2 separate regions of the Homo sapiens genome follow, and region 1 is linked to region 2. The links come from fine-mapping of genetic effects on gene expression. A gene starts in region 2. The other region holds a variant in brackets. All regions are shown on one strand. Distances are between the middles of the regions.

What was found.
Region 1: its variant is fine-mapped to the expression of TEX35 in whole blood (TOPMed, PIP 0.93).

The regions. Positions count from the first base shown.
Region 1 is chr1:178,601,255-178,604,166 of GRCh38, forward strand. No RefSeq gene overlaps it. Among named protein-coding and RNA genes, the nearest start is that of C1orf220, 60 kb to the left of the region's middle. The variant A/C (reference allele first, on the strand shown) is at 1,315.
Region 2 is chr1:178,511,763-178,514,674 of GRCh38, forward strand. It overlaps TEX35 (testis expressed 35), which reads left to right and starts at 1,347. Exons shown (of 9, transcript NM_032126.5): 1 at 1,347-1,465; 2 at 2,265-2,315. The coding sequence starts at 1,427. It overlaps LOC101928866 (a long non-coding RNA gene), which reads right to left and starts at 1,288. Exons shown (of 6, transcript XR_001738307.2): 1 at 880-1,288; 2 at 314-520.

The sequences.
Region 1 (2,912 bases), 89 kb after region 2:
CAGGGTCTCACTCTGTTGCCCAGGCCAGAGTCCAGGGATGCAATCATAGCTCCCTGCAGCCTCGAACTCCTGGCTCAAGCAATCCTCCTGCCTCTGTCTAGCTAGGATACAGGCATGTGCCACTAAAGGCTAATTTATTTTATTTTATTTTGTCTAGACGGGGTCTGATGATGTTGCTGAGGCTGGTGTCAAACTCCTGCCTCAGCCTCCCAAAGTGTGAGTCATTGCACTGGGTTGTCAGGAACTATTTTAGACGCTGCCTACTTCAAATTATCTCCCACACTCAGCACTCAGATTCTGTGAATACTCCTCCCATCGAAGGAGGCTACACATTCAGTTTACAACCCCAGCCTCCAAGATTCTCAGCCAAACACCTTCATGGCTCTGACATATTCTACATATGGAGTTAACAACATGAAAAACACAGTCAAATAGGAAAATCATGTTATCCAACAGAGTTAGACTGTGAAAAGAAGACATTGCATTTTCTCTATTTCTGTGGCATCTAACATCAGAGGACAGGGTAGACCAGATAGCTAGCTAGCTATCTGTTTATCTACCTATTTATTTTGAGACGGAGTCTTGCTTTGTCGCCCAGGCTCAAGTGCAGGGGCACGATCTCAGCTCACTGCAACCTCTGCCTTCCGGGTCCAAGCAATTCTCTTGCCTCAGCCTCCTGCGTAGCTGGGATTACAGGCACCCACCACCACACCCGGTTAATTTTTGTATTTTTAGTAGAGACTGGGTTTCACCATGTTGGCCAGGCTGGTCTTGAACTCCTGACCTCAGGTGATCTGCCCGCCTCAGCCTCCCAAAATGCTGGGATTACAGGCATGAGCCACCATGCCCAGCAACAGCTATCTTTTTAGAATAGCCATAAAAAATATGTCTTTGTTTAGATCACTTCAGAACCAAATGCTCTGAAGCCAGCCTATCCAGAGAGCCTAGATTGATTTGAGGCCAGTCCCTGCAATGCAAGGGGGGGTGTCACAACTCAAAGGCCACTCCTGAGCTTTCACTTTCTTTCCAAAATAATTGAAGTCAGTGGACTGTCCCCAGAGCTTCTGTGAGGTATTCACATTTTCTCTGGAGTGACGTGACTTTTGTAAGACATCTAAGGCATGTATATGTTATACTTTGGCCTGGCTAAATCTGGAGAATGACAGAGGTCTCCAAACCCCGAGGACTGTTGGGTTGATTTGAATTAAATGAGATGCCCCCTTTCTGCAGAAAATGGAAACTAACATGGCTATCTCTGTCCATTACACAAGACTTTTGTAAAACAGTCATGGTTTCTTTCTTAAAATCTGTTTT[A/C]AACAGTTGGAAGTCCATATTTCCTTCACTAATAGTCCTCCTATAAGTTGTGGTCATAAACCATTTTTTCAAGACTCAGAGAGCTCTTCTCACTTGGAAAGCCATCACACATATTCATCAATTTGGAATCTGCAGCAAAACTGAGCCTTTTCAGCCTCTTACCTATAGATAAAAAGGCTGAGATCCATGTTTCTACTTACAATTCCTAATTTTGAGAATCCCTGAGCAATACATTTTGATCTTGTGAGATTTTAACTGATCCCTTTCAATTTTCTTTTCACCATACTTAAGAATCTAAGGCTTACAGATACCTTGATTCCCAACTCTCAAAGCTTTTTATATGTACTTTCTTATTTGTTCTCTCAAACCTTACGAAAAGAGGCATTAGTTCTTTCCCAGAAGGTAAAATGCATAAAGTATGTGGACCTGGCATCAGATGAGCTGGTTTAGAATCTTAGATCCACCACTCACCAGCACTCAGACTTCGGGCAAGTTACTTAACCTCTCAGGGACTCAAAGAGTCCTCATCTGTAAAATGGGGTTACCCACACCTATCTCACAAAATTGTTTTGAGGACTAAATTCCACACATATATCTATATAAAGCATTTAGCATGGTGCATAGAGCTAGTTAAAAATTTTGGTTGCTTTTAAAGTTATGGAGAAACAAATGGAGATCCTGGGAGTGTCTCCCAATGTTCAACCATATAGGAACAAGAAGGGAATGGAATCCTGAATCTAGATCATCAGTCTTCATTGTAGTTACTTCACTCATCCCTTTTGCAAGTTATCACCAAAACATCCTGGTTCACCACTAAGAAACTCTCCGTAAGCTGAGCCTGAAATGTCACAAAAGACGTGCCGTTCCTGTGACCTCAAATAAGAACAGGTTCGCTCTTGATTTGTCCAGGTAAAAAGAGCATTGCAAGTGATAGATACAGAAATGCTTATGTACCTCCTTTTTGAATTTATATTAGGTTTTACATTTTAGCCTCTGCATCTGAATGGATGAAAAGTGAGCATATGTAACAGTGGGAAACAGGTTTTTCTGTGGAGGCTCCCAATAAGTAGCTCCCATAGACTATTCACAAAGCCAGGTATATAGTTGGAAATTCTTCTCCTTTACTTCTTGAGTAGCACGAGATTGGCTCAGGCTATCCAGAAGTAGCTTTGAGGTATAAGCAACCACATGGACATGGACTATACCCTGAAGCCCGGCTATAAGGGGCAGAGCACTGAAGGAGGCCAAAAGAAGTTCAAAAGCAGGGGTAGATCCCTGACCCAAGGGCCCAGGGCCTGCCTCTGGGAGTGCCTTGCCCATTTCATTAGATATGAGGGAGAGTCACAGAGCAGACTGGCCCAGTAGGTCCTCTCGGCCACTGAAGGATTATAAAGGTCTTTACCAGTTATAAAATAAAAGGGATGAATGCTGATTTTTCAACAATGTTAAATACTCAGCTTTGAAAGGAGGGTTGTATGGCACCATCAATCTCATCTGTCCCCGCTTTCTCTTTGAGTTCTTGCCTCTAGCACTCAGCTCCACCCACAGTTTTCCCTCCTCCCTGGGACTCTCTCTGCCCTCCCTCATGAGTGAATTGC
Region 2 (2,912 bases):
GAAGGAGGTGGGGCACATTTTCACGGGGCTGGTGGATGTTGAGATGGAGTCAGTCATTTTCACTGTAATTCCCTTAGAGGAAGGGCATTCCTACCACGAGGCCATCAGATCTGAGAGGGCTGAATTAAAAGGTCCAAGGAAACTGAAAAGTTCCAGCCCCTCATTTATAAGTGGGGAAAGTGAAGCCTGGGAAGCTGGTGACCACCCCCAACTCCCTCTCCTTCCGCTGATGCAGTGGCAGACACATTCTCCTCTGGCTATGGTGGAGTAAGACCCACAGCTGTCACCAGTGTCAGGGCTGGGAAATCACCACCTAGGAAATGCATCAGAAGTGCTGCAGGTGGCTCCAGAAGTTCCAGTGGCCTCCAGGAAGGATAGTCCCAAGCAGGTGTGTGAAATGGGAGGGTAAGTGTGGTCAGTAGTGGCCTGCATGGGGATGTCATTCACATGCAATTTGCATTAGTTCCTGTACTCCTGTGCTGTCTGTCCTCAGATGTCCATGTTGGCCTTTTCTGTGCAACTAGCAGTTGAAATGAGAGGGAAGAAGGAAGTGAATGACCAGTGATAAGAGGAAAAGAGAAATCAATTTCACCAACCCAGATCCCCAGTGATTTTTTATCCCATGGGGTGCCATGTTCCTCTGACTGTCTACTTTAGCACAAACTATGGCTACCCGCAGAATGGCCTTTTCTTTAGTATTCTTCATTTGCCCGAAAAGCTTCTTATCTTTAGCTTCTTGTCCCAACCCTCTTCCCGGATGATAGAAGAACTAGGAAAAGAGAATTTTTAGGTGGGCAGGGGTCTGGGGGTGGTTGTGGGACAGGGGCAGTGTGAGGTCAGAGGCATCAGAAACCATCCTGCTGAGACTGGCTACCCCACCTCATACAGAGTAACCCAGGTTAAGTGAGACGGTGCATGCACGTTGAACCAGAGAGACTTCATGGCATCCTCCAGCCCAAGGTGGCTTCCGGTCCGAGGTGGGGTCGGTTCGCGCGAGGAGCGCACAGCAGAGGACATGGGCTGTGCGCTCAGAGGAGGAGCTGGCTGTCCCTGGAGGACGTCCTTCTGAGTCAGTAGGTGAGTCCTGCTGCAGAAGGAGCCACTGCTTCTGACGCGTGCCTTGCACTTCGACCGTAGCAGGCCATGATCCTCCTCAGTGTGGACTTTCCTTCTGTTGCAAGAGGGAGGCCTGGTGGGACTCTGAAACCTGGCCTGAACCCCTCATCTCAGTGGCCGAAGCCCCCCAGGCCTGAAGCTGTGGTGACGCTCTGGACCACCATGTGGGTCCTGGCATTGTGACCTCAGCTGTTCCGTACACAAAGGGGTGGTCACCCTGCCCTCACCTTGACCTGTAAGTTGCCTAGGACAGTGGCCTGGTCCCAGGGGCTGTTGTGGGGAGTTGAAGAACACCCTGGCCTCCTCCATCATGTCGGCCAAGAGGGCAGAATTGAAGAAAACACATCTGGTAAAAGAGAGACATTGCTGGACAGTGTGGGTCCTCTCTGAGCTCCTACTGAATGGAGATGGTGTCGGGGCAAGGGATACAGAGAATGCTCGCATGAATCTCTGGTTTTTCTTTCTCTGTACTGAGCATAAAGCAGCCTCTCAGTCTGGAAGGGGTGTGGGATTAATCCCTAGCCTTGGGGGTGGGAAGGAAAGAGGCCTCTGCTGCCTCCCTCTGGGGATGAGGAGCACTGCCAAGGGAGCACTCCCTACTCCAAGACCACTCATGGTTCCACGGCCCATGCCAGGCCTGCCAGGCCCACATCTAACCAGCAGGGCTAAGGCTCAGAATAACCTTATTAGATAAATATAATCATCACGTCGATTTTATAGATGAGGAAATGGGGGCTCAGAGAGGCTAAGCAACTCACCCAAAATAACAGAGATAGTAGAGAGGTCAGCTGAGACTATAGTGCAAATCTGCCTATGGCCAAAGCCCTTGCTCTGGAAACAACACTTCCGGGGCTTGCTTCTAGTTATCTTAAAGTGCTTTCTCCACGCTGGCGCCTCCAGCAGGGAGAGGGCTGCCTGCCAAATAGGCAGACACACGCCCATAGGAAGAGGACAGCACGACAAGATGTGATTTGTTAGGAATCGGATCCGGGTGCTGCGGGGTCTGTGAGCCTGAGCTCAAGCCAGTTGGACAGGCAGGGTTGCATGGTTGTGGGGGGCAGGGGGCAGGGTTCCCGTGCAAGGGCCAGATGTTCTCCTCCCCAATCCTGATGTCTGCCAGCCTGAATCTCAGTCTCCTCTTTTTGCAGAGCAAGAACTACAAGGCAGTTTGCCTGGAATTGAAGCCAGAGCCGACCAAAGTAAGAAGCCCTTTTGAGGCCATGCAGGCAGCCAGGCCTGAGATCCATGGGGAAGTGACCAGGAGTCAGGGGTCATTTGCTGATCCTAGTGGCCAAGATTTGTCCCAGGTGCTGGGGGATGCACTGAGAGTTCTTGCTCTCATAGAACTTCACACTGTAACCAATCAGATACATAAACGAACAAGGACTCATTCAGCAGTGTTACCTGCTCTGCTGGGAATCAAGACAGGGAGACATGTCTGAGTGGCTGCCGTGGAGTGGGTGGTAGGGAAAGGCCTTCCTTTGAGCTGAGAGCTGAAGGACAAGACTCTGGCTTTGCAAAGGCAGAGTAAGAGCCTTCTAGGCAGAGGAGGCAGCATGCACTGAGGCCCAAGGTGGGAATGAGCCTGGCTGTTCAAGGGACAAAAGGAGCTGAGGCCCCGTGGGCCAGCAGGGGAGTGGAACAAGATGAGCTGAAAGAGGGAGGAGGATAGAGGAACCTTCTGCACAGGTGGGGCCACCAGCTTTCCTCTTGCCTTAGCCCTAAGGGAGGAACAGAAACACAGGGGGATCTCTTCTGCCTCTGCACTTCCACCGCCCATCTGCAATTCCCAAAGG